Homo sapiens: one gene and its partners. The protein of the gene in region 2 interacts with the protein of the main gene of each other region in a pairwise test. Each region holds a gene or a part of one and is shown on either strand. Other genes may lie near its edges.

What was found.
Region 1: the proteins of SMAP2 (region 2) and MAGED1 interact in binary tests that used the Homo sapiens proteins (3 or more experiments, as listed by UniProt).
Region 3: the proteins of SMAP2 (region 2) and DAB1 interact in binary tests that used the Homo sapiens proteins (3 or more experiments, as listed by UniProt).

What each region holds. Positions count from the first base shown.
Region 1 is NC_000023.11:51,889,046-51,896,622, reverse strand, and holds the start of MAGED1 (melanoma-associated antigen D1), read right to left. Parts: upstream 3,001-7,577; 5' UTR 2,868-3,000; intron 2,355-2,867; 5' UTR 2,319-2,354; coding exon 2,274-2,318; intron 1,997-2,273; coding exon of another isoform or gene 1,829-1,996; intron 1,571-1,828; coding exon 863-1,570; intron 215-862; coding exon 1-214. UniProt on the Homo sapiens protein: Involved in the apoptotic response after nerve growth factor (NGF) binding in neuronal cells. Inhibits cell cycle progression, and facilitates NGFR-mediated apoptosis. May act as a regulator of the function of DLX family members.
Region 2 is NC_000001.11:40,418,142-40,424,616, reverse strand, and holds the end of SMAP2 (stromal membrane-associated protein 2), read right to left. Parts: intron 2,642-6,475; coding exon 2,516-2,641; 3' UTR 1,295-2,515; downstream 1-1,294.
Region 3 is NC_000001.11:57,008,061-57,015,060, reverse strand, and holds part of DAB1 (disabled homolog 1), read left to right. Parts: coding exon 1-178; intron 179-363; exon of another isoform or gene 364-3,788; coding exon 3,789-3,916; exon of another isoform or gene 3,917-4,270; coding exon 4,271-4,366; 3' UTR 4,367-4,381; exon of another isoform or gene 4,382-7,000. UniProt on the Homo sapiens protein: Signaling adapter of the reelin-mediated signaling pathway, which regulates the migration and differentiation of postmitotic neurons during brain development.

The DNA of each region.
Region 1 (7,577 bases), on a different chromosome or scaffold from region 2:
GGCTCTGACGTGCTGGTGGGGTCTGCCTGGCTGTCTGGTTTTGCCAGCCTGAGGGGTTCTGCCAAGCCAATGGCGTCTGCCAGAGCACATTGGGGGGTGCGCCAGGTGGGTTCTGAGTGGTCACTGGAACTGGTGCAGACCTCCAGGTCCCTGCAGCCAGTGGGGCCCGCCTCTGATCCCCACTGCTGTTCTCTTCAACATTCAAGTTATTAATCTGCATCATCAGAGAGAAGTTCAGAATCACCAGTGGGTTCTGTGTCCTCACCTTATCTATTCCAGGAATGCCCTCTAAACCCTCACCTGTAGTGACAGCCTGACCCACTAGCCATTGGTCACCCTGAGTCCTGGGTTTGTCTTTCACTGTCTTCCAGGCAGGAGTTTCATCTCCGAGCCAGGCCAGGAGCAACCCAAAGATGGGGCCTGAGGCTTCTCCTCTTCCTATGTCCACCACTGGTTCTGCCTGTACCACCCTGAACAAATCACTCAAGTCACTTCACCTCTCTGGCACTTAATTTCCTTCTTTGTAAAATTGGCACTATGATCCCTACCTGGTAGGAGGTGCCTTTAAGGTTTAATGAGACAACCTGTGTGAATGTGCCTAGCTCAAGGCTTAACACATGGTGGTTACTAACATAACAAAATGTAAACTGAATTACATACAGGTTGTATATATTATTTGTGTCCATGTATTATCTCCCCATCAGTTTGTGAACATCCGGAGGACAGGAATAAACATTCTCTTCAAATGCCCTATAGCCTAGCTGAATACAGTTACATACATTGTTTTGTTTAGAACAAATGAACACCCTCAGAGAAGAAAGGAGACAGCCCCAAAGCAAAATGAAGTTAGCAGAGATCTCACCTTGCGGGTCCTCTTGCCCCGAATTATTGTCCGGGACTCCAGATTCTGAGCCTGGGAACCATCTGCTGATGTCTGTGCAGTTGCACCGTCAGGTTCAGAGATACCTGGGTCGGTCTCTATGTCAGCCTGGGAAGTGGCCATTTTGGCCTGATTTACATTCTGGGTCTGGGTATCAGCTGTTGGGGCCTTAGTGGTATCATTCCAAGCCTTGAAAGGGGTCTTAGGCCTGCTGTTGGCCAGGTCATTGGCATTGAGAGACTGAGAGAAATTGTAGGTGGCATTTGGGCCCACTTTAGTAGTGGCATTCTGGGCCTTGAAGGCCATCTCAGACTTGTTAGCAGCTAACTCACCAGTGGTTGCTGCCTGGGAAAAATCATAGGCAGCATTTGGACCCTTTGGGGTAGCATTTTGGGACTTAAAGGCTGCCTTGGGCTGCGTGTTGGGCACATCCTTGGCATTATGAGCCTGAGAGAAATCATAGACACCATTTGGGCCTTTTGTGGTGGCATTCTGGACTTTAAAGGCTGACTTAGGCCTAGCGGCAGCTGCTGAAACCTGAATGTCAGCCATCTCATTGGCAGTTGGGGGCTGTGAACTCTGGGGACTAGCAGCTGCGGTGGCCTGGTTAGTAGGTGGAGCCTCTGAGATCTGGATGGCCTCCATCAAGGTCTGCATAAGCAAGGCGCTGTCTTCTACGGAGGCCTCAGCCTGCAAACACAGGGGGGAAAAAATTAAATCTCTGGGCCTCTGAGGCAGGAGGTGGGGTGGGAATAGGGAGCCCGGGTGGCAGCGCAGCAGCGGAGCTGCAGGCGGGCGGTGGGTGCAAAAACAGGGGGGCTGAGGCAGAGATCTAGGGGGCCCGCGAGGGGCGATGGGGGACCAGGCGGGTACTAAACATGTGGCAGGGGTGAAGTAGGGCAAGGGCAAAATGAGGGGTGGGGCGGTATGCGGAAAGTGGGCACGAACAGGAGCCGGGGACGCTCCAAGAGGCGTGCAGTAGCAGCTCAGGACGGCAGGCGGATCGCGGAGTTGAGAATAAGGGGGGTCGCACAGAGTGGGGAATGCAGAAAGAGGGAGGGTGGAGGCAGGAGGCTGGGGGAGGGGGTGACAGACTGCTCTACAAGCGTCAGGATTCTGGAAAAAAAAAAAAATGGTTCCTTACCCACCCCGCATTCTCTGGGCAGATTGCCCTGACTACTAACAGGGTCTCCCCTCTCTCTGAGCAGGGACTGATGGCTGAAAAGAGACGCCCCTCCCCCCCTTCGATAAACGATGGGAATTCGAAAAGCCCACGGAGTCTAGTCACTAAATAGGGTCAAACCGGATCCCGGCGTTTGGGAGACCAAAGAGGCCCGCGGGGAGGGGTGACTGTCGGCTGGGGAAATGGTGGGGTGGGGAGTGGAGATCTCACCTGGAAGCCGAGGAGGCCCGCACCACAGTCCATTTTCTGAGCCATGGCTCCTGTCCCTCTGGCAAGAGCGGAGCCTGGGGGCTGTGGGAGAGGGGCAGGGCGTTATACTACAGAGGGCAAATACGAAGGACCTAATTGGGAGGGGGGTGACTGTGGTCTGACTGTGCGGGCGGATAAGGTGAATGTGAGGAGGAACGGATCGGAGCGGTAAAAGTGAATGGGCGTCCAGATGGAGGTTCTGAACCCCGAGAAGCTACTGACAGGGCGAAGCTTCAAATGGGGATCGGGAAGCAGATGAGTTCTGAATTCGGAGCGGGGGTGCGGTTGGGTTGGGATTCGCATTTGGGAAGTTGCATGGAGGTTTTGAGTCAGGAGGAATCATCTAACAGTACAGATCGAGGTCAAGGAATCTGAGGATTTCGAACGATGGGAGGGATCGGACAGGGGTTTTGAATCAGGAAGGATCGGGAGGGGCATTGAATTGGGGTTTGGGGGGTGGAAGGGGATTCAGAATCCAGGGTGAAGGGATCGGGATAAAAAAAAATGGGGGCCCGCACCAGGGGGCAGATGCCCAGTCTGGGGGCTAATTCTCACCTTGCCTCAGGCCCCAACCCCAACCCCCTCGCTGCCTCCCTTCTTCACGACTCAGAGGATCGGGATTGCTGGGCTCGGCTCTCAGCAGCCGCACTCTCTCCTTGTCCAGGAGAAAATGCCAGCGCGGCAGCTTGGGCGACCCCGCCTCTTCGCCTAATATACCACCCACCGCCTCAGGACGTTACGCGCATGCGCAAACACTGAAGAGCCAAAGTCAGTCCCGCCTGCTTTCCCAACAAAAGCTTCGTCCTGGAGACCATGATGCGCATGTGCGCTGGAAGGCGGTCCCGCCCCCTTTGCCAACACACCACCCCACCACCAACCAGGTCGACACTATACAACAGCACCTCCCCTTCCTCTACGCCCCCTCCCCCACAGATGCGCTGTGCCTCTTGGTCCCACCCCTTGCCCCACACACCGGCCCCCTACCTTTTCCGCAATGCGTCTCTATTCCGTCCCTCCCCTATTCAAGGCCCCTCCTGTCAGGCCGGCTTGCATCTCCACCCCCTTGTCCAGCATGCTTAGGTCTCTGTTTGGGGTCTCTAATTGCAACAAGTGTTAGACCTCTGCTGAGGAAACGGAATGGCCTGAGAGGATACACTATTGGAGCTAACAAAGTAGTAGTAGTAAGTCTGTGGCTGCCACGTGACTCCATGATTTCTCCCTCACCCCCTGCCCGCCCCCACAAGCTCCCAGACGCAGAAAGAACGTTAGTTTCTTCCCTTTCTTTCTGCAGCTCCGGTGATGGACTCATTTTGTGTGTGTTGGGGGAGGAAAGGAGGGAAGGGCACAGCTTGTACATCACAGCAGGATTTGTGCTGGGGCTTGTCTTCCTGTCACAGCAGCCCTGGGAAGTGGATGTCAGCACCCCTATTTTGCAGATCAGGAAGCTGAGGCACAGATACATTGCATGAACTAGACAAGGCCACAGAGCCAGGAAACAAAATGCAAAATTTGGGTCTGGGTCTTCCTGACTCCAAAGCCCACATTCTGCTCATGCTGGCCTGGGGACTAAGGGTACCCCTCCCTCCTCCATTTGAGCAACAGACCACGGCACCCCATTTGTACCAAACAAGCAAAGTTTGTGTTCTAGGAGGCCCAAGCTCATGCTCTGCATTCAGGAGGACACAAGCAGAGGCCCCCACCCTCCCCCTGCCCTGTGTGGGTCCATCCAGGCGTGGGAATTGCTCCTTGGGGTCCACTCTGTGCTCAGAACATCAGGCCTCTTCCTTATCAGGGATACAATCACACTGTCCCTGAGGCCTTCCTGGTGCCCACTGGAGCAGCCAGGACAATCAGACCTGTGTGTCTGAGCCATGGCAAGCCCTGGTTCCTTTCAGGGCTGGGGCCTGGGGCAGCTGTGGTTTTATGGAGAGAAACTGGGCTGGGCTTCAGAATTCCAGGAATGGAGTGCCCAGCCTGTCTGTCTCGAGCTGTGTGAGCCCGCACGGGTCACTCAATTCTCTGGGCCTGGTTTCTCAATGTGCAAAGTGGAATGCACAGCAAGTGGGTCCTACCCAAGGACACACACGCTGCTATGCTTCCAGGATAACTGGAGAAACTCAAAAAGGCAGAAAATTAAATACAGATGTGAGGTGACTCAAATTAAACTGGTACAGTTCCAAAATTCAAGACAGATCTTTGTGCAGTTCACATTTGTTCTGGCATCAACTCATGCCAGAAGCCTGAACATGAAAGGAAGCTAATGCTAGGAAGGACTGCAGCATTTGGTCCCCAAGGGCCAACATCAGTTCTGCCTGGCTGGATGACTTTCCTCATCTGTTGCATAGCAACCTCCTCTGTCAGCTGCCTGTTTTTCCTCAGCACTTCCTCTGTAAAGTGTCTGCAGTGAGACGTGATCAGACTCAGGAAAGGAGGTCAGAAACACCATTTTCTATGCTATCTGTTTCCATATCTGTATCTTCGGTCATGACTTGGCCTATGAATTCTAGATCCATAGTAACTACCTACCTCACTTCTCCAAATGGATATCTCTCAGTATTCTCTAAATTAACAGGTCCCAAACCGATTCCTTCATACGCCTCCTCCTTCCCACCAACACAGTGTTTCTCCTCTAGTTATGCCTTTCTCCCCCATTTAGAGTGTAAACCTCTTAGGGAGACAGATTTTTGTTTTATTCATTGTTGTTTCCCCAGCACCTAGAACCATGCCTGGCACATTTTTATATCCTCAATAAATATTTGTTAAATGAATGAATCGCACTCTCCATCCCATTGCTAAAGCAAGAAACCTGAGAGGCAATTTTTCCTGTGATCAATTCACTTATTTTTCCTCATTATACAAATAATGCACACTCATCACTATACATTCAAACACTGCCTAAATATTTTAGAAATTAAATAAACATCACTAAATCTCATCACCTTGGACAATTGCTTAGATTTGGTGCTACCTTTTCATACTTTACACACATATATGTTGTTACATAAATGATGTGTTATATATGCCAGACCTTAAATTGCATTCTTTTCCTTACTGCTTCCCACTTCCTTTCAATTCTACCTTCACCTGCCAAACACTTGTTTTTAACACCATTTGATATCCTTCCATACTCAAAAGTTGTTTTTTATTTTTACAAATTTAAGATTACATGAACTTTTATGTGTCTGAATTATCTTATTTGACAACAGTCTACCTGTGATTCGTTCTTTTAAATGACTGCATAATATTCCATGGTAAGAATGTACCACAATGTATTTAACCATTCCCCCATGGATGGAATCCATTTTAGTTTCAGGATTTTTGTGGGGAGCGTGGCAATACAACAACATTGCAATAAAAATACTTGTACATGTATTCTTATACTTTAATAATTAATGTTTGTCTTTATTTCCGTGACACCAGAAGCCCAGGAGTAAGACTGACATACTCTACAAGACTTTTCCTTTTTTTTTTTTTTTTTGCCAATCTTATGTGTATTTATTGGTATCTCCTTATGGTTTTAATTTATATTTCTGATAAGCAATGTGGTAGAACACATTTTTATACATTAATGAACATATTAGATTTATTTTGTAATATGCTTGTATATTTTACCTGTTTTTCATTTGGGTTGTCTGTCTTACTGACTTTTAGGAGTTCTTTATATAGCGTTATAGATCCTTACTGAAAACCCTTGGGGCCAGATGTATTTCGATTTTTAACATTTTAGTAAGGTCATATATATTCTTACTTAACAGTTCCAAGTGCAAAAGCCACAAAGGCCAGATATTCACTTCTTCACATGCCCTTGGCAGCTAAGAGAATGTGATCTAGGATTTACCAGTGTGGCAAGCTCCTGAAGACCATCCTCAGATTCAATGATTTGCTAGAAGGATTCGGAGAACTCAGAAAAAGTGTTATGGCTATTGTTTATTACAGTGAAAGGATACAGATTAAAATCAGCAAAAGTAAAAAGTGCATAGGGAAAAATTCAGGAGAGACCAGGCACGACTTTTCAGTTGTACTCTCCCAATGGAGTTGTATGGCCAGTGCTTAATTCCCCCAACAATGATGTGTGAAAACATGTATGAAATACTGTCAACCAGGGAAGTTCACCCAAGCCTTGGTGCCCAGAGTTGTTTTTGGGGTTCAGTCAGATAGGCATGGAGCACCTGTGTGGTTGACCTTAGTTATTCAGTCTCTAGTCCATGCAGAGGTTAAACTAGTATCTCTCAGCCCAAGGCTCACACCACAAATCACACTGTTAGCACAAACTATCCAGTGTGGGCCAAGGCCACAGTAAACAAAGACACTCTGATCAGGCAGGATACTTCCAAGGGCTTACAGATTATCTCCCAAGAGCTGGTCAAGAGCCAAAGCATTCTTTGCAAAAGACCTTTTTTTGGAAAGCATAGGGTTTGAACATTGCAGACCTGCTGAGTACAACCCTTTCACTGCAGTTACAACTTAGACCTAACACTTTGTTTCAAAGGAGTGATTCAAATATGCAGTGATGGAATTCACCACCATAGTTGTGGTGGTGGGAGCAGCAGCCACAAGAAAATCCAGTTTCTAGGGGCAGCATTAGTGGCAGGGCTAACATCCGGTGTCCACTGTTCAGTAGCGGCAGCAATGGTATCCAACCAGCTAATACATATGGCTTTTTTTTTTTTTTTTTTTTTTTTTGAGACAGAGTCTCACTCTTTCACTCAGGCTGGAGTGCAGTGGCATGATCTCAGCTCACTACAACCTCCACCTCCCAGGTTCAAGTGATTCTCCTGCTAGAGCCTCCCGAGTAACTGGGATTACAGGCACCCACCACCACGCCCGGATAATTTTTCTATTTTCAGGAGAGATGGGGTTTCACCATGTTGGCCAGGCTGGTGTAGAACTCCTGACCTCAGGTGATCCACCCACCTCAGCCTCCCAAAGTGTTAGGATTACAGGCATGAGCCACCATGCCCGGCCCTATGACATGATTTTTGAAATATAACTGATGCCCTACTGCTTTTAGGTAATATTTTATTAATTCTGCTTTTAAAAAACTTTTTAAACTTTTTATTTTGAAATAATTACAGATACACAGGGAATTGCGAGGATAGTACAGTGAGGTTCTATGTACCCTTTATCTGCTTCCCCAATGGTTACATCTGTGTAACTGCAGTACAAAATCAAAACCAAGACACTGACATTGGTACAATATGTGTATATAGTTCTATATCACCTTATCACATGTGGAAGTCTCTACAAACACCACAGCAATCAAGA
Region 2 (6,475 bases):
GTTCCAAGACTCAGTTCTCTTCTATTTTCTCAAGTGACTTCAACCGGTCTCATAGCTTTACATAACACCCGTACCCTCATGATTCCCAAACTGATGCCCCCAAACTATTTCCAACTCTTTCCAGATCTCTACGGACTGGCTGCTTATTTAGGTCTCAGTCCAAATGTAACCTTCTCCTGACCACTCCATCCAAATGGCCCCGTGCCCACTCTCTCCCCTTGTCTTATACTGTCTGAATTAAATCTATTTGTTTATTATGCATTTCTCCTACCACACTATCCTATGAGATTGGACAGTTTTTATTCACTGCTTTGTCTCTAGAGCCTAAAACATTCTTTGGCACATTACTGACACTTATTAAATGTTTGTCAAATGAGCTACTGCCTAACACAGATCTGGCACGTAATACCTGCTAATATCTGAGTGCTTAGTAAGTGCCCAGTAGTGTGCTAAATATACCACAGGAACTGCTTCTTACTATCCTAAGTATTACCATTGTCCCCATTTTACCTGGACACAGGAGTTCAGTAATTTGCTCAGGTCCCAGCGTAGGAAGGGATAGGAACACTGGCAGCCTGACCCAGAGCCAACTTTCCTAGTCACTGTGCTGTCCTCCCACTTACATCTTTAAGGACTCAAAGGGTGTACTCAAAGGAAAGAAGGGAGGAAGGGTCCAAGGATCACATTTGTTGAGAGCAGAAAAGGAGTCAAAGGGAGCAGGAAATGCACTAAAGATGGTCTTCGGCCTTTTGTATTTCGTACTGCCCCCAGGATTGAGTGTCCTAATTCCTGACACTGATACGGAAGGTCCAGTTCTGATAGCTCAGAGAGGGGTGAGTTACCTTTACCAGCCAAAGCTACTGCTCTCTTGGCAGAGAGGAATTTCAACTCACTACTTAATTGCCATGGTATAGGGAAAGAACAAGGGGCTGGAAATCCAGACACTTGGAGGCTACTGCCGGTTCTGCCCAGGGTTCTCTAGTGGACATTTGCCAACCATGTCCTTTCTCCGTGTCTCAGTTTCTCCACCTGTGGGGGGAAAGCATGCCGCTCTGATGCTCTGTGACTCTAGAAGGTGCTGATCTCTGGAGTTCTCTCAGCTCACAGCTCTAGATGCCAGTGGAGAGAGGCCCCCTTTCTGACTGCTGGAGCCTGGGCCTCACCCTTGGGTATGAGAAGTACAGAATTTTCTAAAATACAGGAAGTGAAACAATTGCCTTTGGAAAACAGAAAACCTAAGTGTAACGCACCCTCCTCCAAGAGTGACGCACAGTAATGGCCAAGCAAACAGTCCTTCCCTGCAATATTTATTAAGGAATTTACACATACACAGGAGAAAGGCAGCCAGGAACTGTGGTTCCCACACATGAAATCTTTTAAGCAAAGTTTTCTTGTCTGAATTTTCAAGTGGGGTGAACAATGACTGAGAGGAAAGCTGTCCCGGCCCTCTGCCTCGTACACCTGGGAACGGTGGGGAAACAGAGCACCCTGGATACACAGGCATGAAAGAGTGATCAGCAGACCGGGAGAAGGGAAGGGAGAAAGGGAGTTATCAATGACATGGCGTTTTTTAAACCATAAGAAAAACACAACAGTTTTAGGCTGCTGATAAATTAATTCCTCTCTGTTGTAAACCTAAAACTAAACAAAAACAAAAATACCCAGAGCAGATGGGGAGAGGGTGGGAGGCGGAACACACACTCATACACACACACACACTCACGCACACACACAAGCAGTACACGTTAAGCTCTGCATTCCCACTATAGGGGTTGGTCCTCCAGCCACGGAGCCAGATCCTACTGAAGGCAGGGGGGAGGCGGGAAGGGATGTGTGTCTGTGTGTGGGATCTTCATAAAGTCTTTGGTGCTAATAAAGGCTGACTGAAGCAGCAAGTCCTGAAGCCCCAGATCCAGAAAGCAACTCAGGGCGAAGAGAGTAGTATTTTTGCTCATCCTCATAGGAGGGGGCTTGCCTCACCCCAGGGCTAGGGTCAAACTGACCCAGGACCCAGGGAGTATTTAATTTGATTTCAGTACTTGCTTCATTCCCATAAATCATGAGAACATGATGCTTTTCAAATTTAAACACTTAGAAACAGCTTATTAACACATATAGAAGGACCTCTAAGCTTTCCCCTGTTTGCCTAATATACAACACCCACAGACCCTTCTGAGAGTCTGACAGGAGCTTTAACCTTGAGGGAAGGGACTCAAAGGTGTGCACACTTCTCCCACAGTTTAAGTGCCTTCTGCCAACAACTTCTAAGGTGCTGGTGCCAGGAGAGGACTGGGGAGGACGTTGGGATGGCTATGGGGCATGTACAACATAAAGCAACAGAGAGGTCTTCATGTTTGGGAAGTGGCTGGGCAGGATGCCAAACCCCAAATGACTTATTGAGCAATTTCTAAACCAAACAGAGAGGTAGGAAAAGAGGATGGGGGTCAGGGGTGGAGGCTGTGGAAAGGGGAGAGCGAGGGCTGAAGAGAATGGCAGCCATACAGGTGTTTTGTTTTTATTTCCACATCTGAGGACTGAGAGTCTGATTTGCTGCCTGTCCATTTCCGCCACTCATTGACTGTCCATAGTTCATCATGCCATTGGCTCCATAGAAGTTCATCCCAGCCATCTGCTGGGTCATCTGAAAGGGAGAGAGGAGACTTTCAGACCAGGCTGTGGGCATTCCGCCAATTAGTGCAAAAGGCAGGGTGAGAGTCCCTTTCTCTGCCAGGATGGGGAGAATGAGACAAAGGGAAACTCTGTTATGGACAGTAAACCCTGGACCTTAGCAGTCAGATCATTTCAAGGCCACGTACGTGAATGACCTTTTGGGAGTGCAATGCTGACGGAGACTAAAGCTCAGGGAGGGAAAGAAGGCATCCTGGCATCTGGATCTAGTCGACAGAAAATCAGCATGAGTTCCTCTCTTTTTCCTTTCCAGTCCCTCATCCTAAATAGAAGGGGCCTATTGTTAACTTGCCTGGCCAATCCTAAAAGCTGAAAGGAAAGCCCCCTCCCCAGTGCTCCCGCCTCATCTTCAGCACAGCTATTACTGTCAGTGTCAGGGAAAGCGCTTGAGCAGGCTTGCTCGTTTGCACAAGGGGGAAAAAAAGGAACTGGACTGTTCAGAATGAACAAAGGCGGTGGCGGGGCGGGGGCGGGGGAAGACTAATGTGTCTTCAGTGTATAAGAAGGGAAGGAGCTGGGAGAAAACAGTCAGTGGAATAAGGCCTGGGGCAGGATGGGGCGGGGGTCCTTCATGAATCTGATGGAAAGACTGGCCCCTAGCAGTGAACAGAAAAATACTTTATGGAGAAAAATGCCTTGAATTTCCTAAGCCTAGTAAATTTTCTATATAAGTTATTTTTCTTTAGGAGAAACTATTATTTTCTTGTACCAACTTTTAAAGTAAATTTCAAACTGACATAAAAGTTGAAACAATAGTACAATAAAACCCATGTATCTTCTTCCTTAAATTCACCAACTGTTAACATTTGCCATATTTTCTCTCCCTCCCTATAAAAAAACTTACATTTTTTTGATGAGTATCAAAAGTTGCAGATTAAAAAAAAAAAAAAGCTGCAGCTATCACGACATTTCATTCCTAAGTCAGGAGGCACCTCATAAGAATGAACACTTTAACAGAACCACAAAACAATGAACACGCTCAAGAATTTTAACATTAACACCATATTCTAATGTACATGGCATTTCATTTTCAGATCTCTGTAGTCTCCTTTAAGCTAGACCAGTTTCCCTAACACTTCCTTCCATTTCTTCCTGACACTGACATTTTTAAGAACCCAGGACAGTTATTTTGTAGCATACCCCTCAATTTGGATTCATCTCATGTTTTCTCATAATTGGATCGAGGTTCAATATTTTTGGCAAGATTCTATGGAGGTGACACATGTCTTTCTTAGTACAAAATATCAGGAAGCATATGACATTACTTTGTTCCTCTGTCAGTAATTTTATGTTTGATCACTTGGCTGAGGTAGTGACTATATTTCTTTCATTATAATTAATAAATAATCTGAAGGGCATTTCTTTGCAAATGTGTCAATCCTTTGCTCTTTTTACAACTACTGTCATTCTTCTGTAAAGAAGGCTTTTCCTCCCTCCATTCCACACCTGGTTTTTAAAAAATATCACCGTGGACTCATGGTTTTGTTTTGTTTTTTCCATTCAGTGTGTCATAATCCATTACTGTTGTTACTCTTTTTGATGTTCAAATTGTCTCACATTTGGCCAGTCAGAGCCACTGGAAGTTGGCTCATGCGTCCCTCTGACATATTCCCATCAGACTTATAGCATTCCATTACTTATATAAATAAAAACGAAACAATGAAAATAAGTGAATTAAAATCTCCACTATGAAAGCTAGAAAATAACAAAGTAAACCCATAGAAAGCCTACGGAAATTGAGGTAGAAAACGGAAAAATGTAGCACCAATAAATCGAAATCCTGGTTCTTTGAAAAAAATTAATGAGACTGCTAGGCATAACTTTTGATAAATTTGAAAACCTTGGCGAAATGGAAAATCTAGGTAAATACAGTTTTCCAAAATTGACTTCCATAGAAGAAACAGAGAAAAGTATCAAAGATTTGCTACAAAAAAAGCAATAGTGCCCACAAACTTCACATGGGAATTCCACAAAACCTTCAAAGACCAGAGCTACATAAATTATTCTGGACCACAGAGAAACAAAAACATAAAAGTACTTCTTATAAATAAGTATAACCCTGATAAAGATAGCTATACATGCACATGTGCAGTACACATGCACCATACCACCTCTCTGGGGTTCCTTTGCCTGTCTCTTGGTTTTCACATTAAATCACTTTGTATTTCTTTGTACCTAGTGCAAAACTAGTGTTGCTTTGTTAGCCAATTTGAACATCATTTTCTTTTGATAGAAGAGTTGCCTACTGGTATGACTGGTATGTTTGGTCTCAACTCCATCATATTAGATTTTTACTGTGTTTATTGTATTTGCTGCACTTTGTAGTCTGTTTTTAAAAATTCTCAGCTGGGCGCAGTGGCTCATGCCTGTAATCCCAGCACTTTGGGAGGCCAAGGTGGGTGGATCACCTGAGGTCAGGAGTTTGAGACTAGCCTGGCCAACATGGTGAAACCCCGTCTCTACTAAAAAATACAAAAAAAATTAACCGGGTGTGGTGGCGGGTGCCTGTAATCCCAGCTACTCGGGAGGCTGACGCAGAAGAATCACTTGAACCCAGGAGGCGGAGGTTGCAGTGAGCCGAGATTGTGCCACTGCATTCCAGCCTGGGTGACAGAGTGAGACTTTGTCTCAAAAAAAAAAAAAAAAAAGAAAGGAAGAAAATTATCTTGGTATTCAGAACATTTCACGTGTTTGTTCTAGTGATTACCTTCATAGTAATACTTTTTAGCAATGTCCTTGGTCTCCTTTTTCCTTATTCAAGCTTCCGTGATTTGGTTTGTCAGCTTATTGCATCCTTCGATTTCTACTTCTTTCCCATACAATATTTATTATTCAACTTTTCTCCCTCCTCCTTCATTTTCAGTTGTATTTGTTTGTCAGAATATAATGTATATTCTGCAACGCTTGTCACCACCTTTGTTTTAGTCTTAGATTCTCAATTAAACATTCAATTCTCACCATCAGTTCTTTTGCCAAAAATGAAAATGACCCCAGTCATCTCTTAGGTGGATGAAGCTTATCTTCTGTTAGATTCCCCAGGAAAGTCTTGTAAGTGTGATATTCTCTGAGTTCTTGCATATTTATTTTTTACAGCCTTGATACCTGAAGGATAGCTTGGCTGGCTTGGTTGTAAAATACTTGTTGTGTCTTGCATACACTTGAGTGTCTTTAAAATACTACTCTCCTTGTTATTCTTTTTGTATTTTGCTGCTAGGAAGTCTGATGTCAACCTGGGTATTTTTTGTTTGTTCTAAGTAACAGATTTTTGTGGGTAGGAGGTATGGAAAAGGTTGGACCCCTAAACATTTTGAATGTTCTTTAAAGTCTGTAGATTTGCTGGGATATGTTTTAAAGTTGACTGTTCTGGGTCAATTTTCCCAGACACACAGTGGGCTCTTTCCATATTATATCCAAGTCTTTTATTTCTAGAATGTTTTCTGGTGTTAAACACATTAATACTGTCCCATATTTTATTTATTTTGTCTTTATTTCTTTGGGCATCTCCAAATATATGTAAGTTTTCTTTGCCTAACTTCCATATTAATTTCCATCTAATTCTTTTTACTACTTTCTATATTTAGTTTTCATTCTCTTAGCTGTTTCATGCCTTTCCTCAATGCCGAATATATTTTCAGCTCAATCTATTGTTCTTTAGCTAACTTGTAATTGAGTCTTTATACGAAAATTTTGGCTTTTTCTTCAATTTCTTTTCTGAGTTTAGTAAACTTTCATTTCACAGCATGCAGTTTTTTATCCATTTTGGCTTTAAGTTTTTGAATTTCTGATT
Region 3 (7,000 bases), about 17 Mb from region 2:
CCTCCGCCCGTGCCCTCCCGCAAACCCGACCAGCCCTCCCTCACCTGTACCTCAGAGGCCTTCTCCAGTTACTTCAACAAAGTCGGGGTGGCACAGGATACAGACGACTGTGATGACTTTGACATCTCCCAGTTGAATTTGACCCCTGTGACTTCTACCACACCATCGACCAACTCACGTGAGTGCCCCTCACTTAAGACATAAAACCCAATGAGAGCCGTAACTCATGTCTGGAGGCGGGGTTTCTGGAGTCAAATAACTCATCTCACTTGCATTAATCAGGCTTCTTTGTTTATATTATTATTACTAGTAATACTACTATGAGCTGCCAATTTAGATACCACTGATAACATACAAACCTTCTTCATATGTTCCATGTTTATTTTTAGACTTATAATAATGCTTAATGATAAATTTTGTTAGACCTGTTTGACAGATAATGAAAGTGAGGCTCAAAGATGAAGACAATAGACAAAGTGGTATTGAATTGAATGTAAGCCTGGTATTTTTCCACCATGTTACTCTGCCTCTTAAGATTTTGTTTGTTTGCTCATTCATTCGTTCATTTATTTACGTATAGATAGCTTATGACACACAGATTTTGGCGTGGCTTATTGAAATAAAATGAATGCAAACTTTAAAAATTTGGGGAACAAGTTTTAAACATTAGAATATAAAATAAGGATCAAGAGAAAACTTAGGGCAGAGATACGCAGCCATAAGGTCTTAAATAGCTTTTATAGTTGAAGCCTCATTTTGGGTTAAAGCTTCTGGTAGTTAAAGGGAACAAAAAGATAGTGCTGCAGAAAGTTCTGGACTGGGAACCTGGAGATCAGATTTATTACTGACCAGTTTTGTGCCTTTTGGCAAAGCACTTTATTTCTATGAGCCTTGGTTTCCTCATCTGTGTAAGCGATGGGTTATTAAAAGGATTCAATGGTATATGTGCTCAAACATTATAGAACTCCCAGAATTTGAAGTATCTTTTATCCTCATTATTAGCACATGTTAAGTGTTTTTTTGCAGTCCTGGACCAGAGTTCTGGTGTTGACTCCTCCACCACAAGCTGTGTCTTTGGGCAAGCGTATGACTTCTCTGAGACTCAGTTTTATCATTGGTAAAATAAGTGAATTGGCTTGGATGAGCAGTGTGCATCCTTCTAGTTCCAGCTTTCAGTGAGTCTCCTCCAGCTCATATTTCTTCTGCAAACATCTGGAAAACAGTGACTGTGCAGCCAAATCAGAATCCAGATACACTTGAGCACATGTACACTTGTTTGACACAATTCAGGGAAGGTGTTCTGATGACTCAGCCTGTGCCTTGACACCTGATAAGAGGAAAGAAAAGGCTCATGCTGCAGTGAGTTTGGCGGTTTCATTACTGTCACAGGTGATATGGATCACTGCATGGCCAATACTGTGAACTGTCAAAAAAAAACACCCCTAATGTTAATACAATTAGATTGTGCCATTTCAGCCAGGTTCAGAATGCTATTCTGAAAATGAATGCCCTTAACGTGTATAAACAACCCACTTGCACTCAGGCCATATGATCTACATAGTGGCAGCATCTCTATTTATGCAGACTCACAGGGTTTCAATGAGGAATAATGAATAAAAAATGAAATGTTAAAGAAATGACAGCCATGCATAAATAAGCAAGCATCTTTTTAAAAACAAACATCTCTCTTTCAATGGACTTGTGTGCCAGCTACAAATGAAAGAGGAGAGTTTAAGTTCTTTGAGGGCAGGAACTGGCTCCATCATTCCTACACTTCTCATAATGCTAGCTTAGTGCCTGGGACATGAGAGGCATTTGGGAAAGGTTATAGAGAATGAAATAAACAAAATGGAGATGACTTAGCTACTGTTATGTTTTAGAGCATCGTTGGCAACCTCGGCACTATGGACATGTTGGGCCAGATAATTCTTTGTTTCAGAGGCTGTCCCATTGTAGGATGTTTAGCAGCAACGCTGGCCTCTAATCACTCTATGAGAGAAACGTATATCCCCTTCCTCTAGTGTCGAGAAAAATGACTCCAAGCATTGCCAAATGTACCCCAGGGATGAAATTGCCCCAGACTGAGAACCACTGCTTTAGAGTATTAGCAGCATCCTATAAAGCCTTCTAAAGATTAAGACACCTGCATAAATAAACTCCTGCTTATGCTTTCCATTGATTTCATTAGGTAAGTCTGAGCAGTATACCTGCCAGAACTGGCAACTCAGCTTGTGTTCTCAACCTTTAGTAAGCAAAAATCCACTTCAAATACAATTCAGGATCTAATTAAGCTAATATTTATTAAACATCTACTACCCTTCAGGGTGTTTGCATATAGCTTTAAACCCACTTTCAATACAGTTTGTTCCATAGTCATCTCCTGAAACAAAACAGATTTCATTGCAAATTTTTTTCCAAAAACTTGCTGTTTTATTTTGAACAAAATTAGAACCAGTCTTTATATCCTCTGACCCATCAGTATCCCCTTAAGAATGTTTTGGGAAGAGGATTGGTTGGATCAAAAGTGAACCTCAAATAGAAACAGAAAAGCACAGTTGGACTGGATAGTGTCAGACAGAGCTCTGTTAAATGCCAGTGCTGCTATTTCATAGCTGTGTTAACCCTTCGCAAGACACCTCACCTCCCTGAGCTGCAATTTCTCCATCTGGGAAACAAAAAAGTTATGATAACAACTTGCAGGTATTTATATTAAGGTGTATAATGAATGGGAAGTGCCTAGCACAGTGTCCAACTCATTGGCACATTATAAATAATAAGTTAGGAAATAGCATCATCTTTCTATATATAGATTCATCAGAGTAAAAAGTATGCACTAAGTTTTACAATCATTCACTGTCTGATTTCTAAGTTCTATAACATTAGGAAAATTCAGCTGCTAAATGAAGTCATGCCACCCTCTCACTTGGGTCTTAGCCAGTAACCAGTATTTTCAGTGACAAATTAGAATTTATTAAAAGAAGAGTGGTATCAAATGGCATATTTGTTCTAAACCTCTAAAACAAATGAGAGGAGATGTGGGTGGGTCAGCCCAGAAAATGCGTATCCTTTGTCCTTATAGAATCAAGTACCAGCTGTGAAGTTGCCATCAGCTACATCCATTTTCCCAGATCACTGAGACACTTTCTCTTTATTCAACATGTGTTTATTGAATACCTCCTATGTGCCAGGATTCAGAATCTGGTTCTACCAGTTGCCATGAGCAAATTAGCAAACTTCACTTTCCTTACCTGTCAAATTAGGATAACCTCTACCTCAAAGATGTTTTATGAGGATTAGAGATATTGTCTGTAAAGTTTCTAACAGTGTTTGACACATGAAAGGCGCTCAATAACGTGCCCTCTGATGAAACACAGAAAGAAGAAAGCAAACCATAGCCCAGTAGTTCTCAGCTTGATCATGCATCAGAATAACCTGTAGCAGGTTGTTCAAACACAGAGTCTGTGATTCAGTAGATCTGGGGTAGGGTCAGAAAATTTCATTTCTAACAAATTCCCAGATGCTACTGCTGCTGCTTGTCCAAGGACCATCCTTTGAGAACCACTGCCTTACCTATCAGTGTGGACGAGCTCCTTCCTGAAGTCAGATGTGTGAGAGGAAAGATCAATACGTACAGAGAGAGAATTCAAATATTCAACTGATTCCACTGGAAATAGGAAGAGGAATCCTAAGATTTGACTTCAATATAAGCAGATTCCTGAGGTTTCTTTGGGATACATTCATGGCAGCCAGGCACTTAAGATGTCTCTTTTTCTGTGGTCTCTGTGTAGCTCCAACCCCAGCCCCTAGACAGAGCTCTCCATCCAAATCATCTGCATCCCATGCCAGTGATCCTACCACAGATGACATCTTTGAAGAGGGCTTTGAAAGTCCCAGCAAAAGCGAAGAGCAAGAAGCTGTAAGTGACCAGTTTGTTATTTGTTTGTGTTTTTCCTTAAAATTAAGACCTCTGTAACTGAAATGGATAATGCATGAGGAAGCCTACATAGAAAAGAATGCTGGCTCAATCTCATAAGTTCTCAAGGGGTTGCTAAAGGGGCTTTCTTTTGTGTTCAAATGAGTCAGCTGAAAAGGACTGCCTTTTTATTAAATTGTTACTACAAGTCCACATTTGTGGTGTAGCATCCTCTAAATGCCGTTGCACCCTCCTTTACAATAACTGATTGTGCTGCATGAAAGTATATCCAGGTGTCTTATATTTTCAATGCTTGAAAAGAGAGAAAAAAAAAAGTATTATCTTCTTGTGTTCTAGCCTGATGGATCACAGGCCTCATCCAACAGTGATCCATTTGGTGAGCCCAGTGGGGAGCCCAGTGGTGATAATATAAGTCCACAGGCCGGTAGCTAGATAGCGCAGGTCTGGGTAGGTATCTGTCCTTTTTATCTCCTTTACCCTTAAGCTATCTGCTTTCCCTTTTGGTTGTTCTTCACTTCTGAAGCCACATCCTCAATGTTTGCACCATGTCTCCTTGCCTGAGCTGTATTGCTGATGTTTGCACCATCGCTCCTTCCCTGAACTGTATTCCTGATGTTTGCACTATTTCTTCTTGCCTGAGCTATATCACCAGTGTCTGCACCATGTCCCTTTGCCTGGTGTCTACGTTCTACTTTGCCTTTTCTCATGGATGCATGACCTTTGACATATCCTGGGAGGTAGGGGTAGGGGTGAGAAGTGGGAACTGATCATATTATTTTATTAATAATATGTTCTGCGTGGTTGGTGGTGATAGAATGAGGCATGGTCCATGCTACTTAGCATGCATTTAGTTTCTGGAAGCATCAACATTTTGAGATGGACACATTCTGCCCACCCTGATAATTTCTCAGTGAGCCATGGTCCAGATGCTTTAATCTTTTAAGCAAAATGTCACTGCATTTGCCTACAGTCTGCAGATCTAAAGAGGTCACCAATCAAACACACAGAGAAGCCAGACTAAGAAGCAAAAACAAGCAGTGCTTGAAATAAGATTGATCGAGATGTAAGATCAGAGGAAGCCCTTTTCGTCTAGCCAGAAAGGACCCTGCACCCTGCATCCTTTCTGATGTGAAATTCAAAGCCCAGAGATGTGTAGCACTCACTTCTGAGGCTGTGCTGTTTGCACCTGTGCTGCAGCATGTGGATTGCCACCAAATCACTTCAGATTCCATCAGCAGCTACTTTGAGAGAGATGTACTTACATTTACTAGAAGTGGCTTTTGGCACTTGAATTTCAATACATCTGATTTGATCGAAAGAAAGAGGAGCTGATGAAGCAAACCTTCTTAGGAGACAGAAGTACACCTTGTTACCCAGACATGATTTCTAAGGTCACTTCTTGACAAACGTGTTCAATTTTCAGATACCTTCTTAGTTTTCTATAAACACACAGGACTGCAAGGCCATTCCCAAAAGGCTCCTTTTTTAAGTTCTGAACAGCATGGTCAAAACCATTAAAATGGTAAACAGTTTTCTCCACTCATAAATGGATTCGGAGGCTACCTCATAAATGGATTCTGAGGCTACCTCAGAATTAGTCTTAGCCCACACGTAAGTTAGACAGTTACTGAAAGCTAATATGGTATTTTGAAAGTGTATTTTGTTAACAGGTATTTTTATTAAAGAACCTAACACACTGTGTAGGTTGCCACATTTTGTATCAGTGCAATAGCACATAATAATATGTCATGCCATGCAAAACCACCTACGATTCACTTAGAAGTTCACTCTTGCAAAGCTACTTCGGGAGTTGATATATTGAAAGCAAAGTCAATGTTTCAGGAAAAAGAAAAGTTGGGGACTATAGGCAGACTCCTTGGGATGATTCCCCACGAGGTATTTTACCCCCCGCCTAAGTTGTATTTCACGTGCTCAACCTTGCCTTGAAAAATTTGGTGAATAAACTAGAGGTGACAAGAGCCATTCATCAGGATAACAGCAAACATCATCCTAAAATTGAAGTTCTTCTAGAAAACAAAGATGACTTACACCATTTGCAGATCAATGTATTAAACCCTCATCTTTATGAACCTGTTCAGCTTGAGACAATCCTACAAGCCAAACTGTTTCATGGGGCTTTGGTCTGTTCCACATTTAATGCTCTGTCCAGTACCCCAAGCCACAGCTGAGCTGTAAATGGACATAGCATAGTAGTGTGGGAAGAACTCAGGATTTGGACTTGAGTTTAAATCCTAACTCAGCTACTTAATAGTGGGAAATCTTGGGCAAGAACCAAAATTTGAGTCTTGGTTTCTTCATCTGCTAGAAGGGGCTTATATTCTCCATAATGGTAACTGAGATAGTTTATGTTGAGTATCTAGCGCAGAGACAGACACTGAGTAATCAGCTTAAAATTCAGCTTAAAAAAAATATCTAGGTTCTGGAACAACATTGTTTGAGTTCAGCATCTGGCTCCACCACTTCCTGGCTATGTGACACTGCTGTGATTTTATAATTATTCTCTATCTTATTTTCTTCATTTGAAAAATAAGGATAAAAATAGTGTCCACCTCATAGGGTTATTATGTGAACTAAATAAAGTGATATATGTGAAGCTCTTAGCACTGTGTATAGCACATAGAAAGCACCTAATAGATGCTAGCTACCCTCATCATCACCATCACCATCATCATTATCATCATCATTATCATCATCACATATATCCAATTAATGCACGCTCCCCACTCTCTTGGATTTTATACATTTAGCTTTCATGTATAAGACCATTGGTTGGGAGGTTTTGCTTTGTACTTTGTCTTCAGATAATTAATTTTCAATATGTGTCACAACAGCTTTGGAAGGGAAAAAAAGAAAAAAGCCTGCTGCTTAGCTCTCTGGCTTGCCCCACCCCATAATCAGAATGGCCCTGGTTTGGGCCTCACACAGCTCACTGCCAAAAAATGGGCTGTCTTAGAATCACATGCAAGTCAAAATAAGTACCTCCCAGCTCCAGAGGAGGGCTGGACTGTAATCTTCGGTGAAGTAATTTTCTCCCTTTGAAAGCTT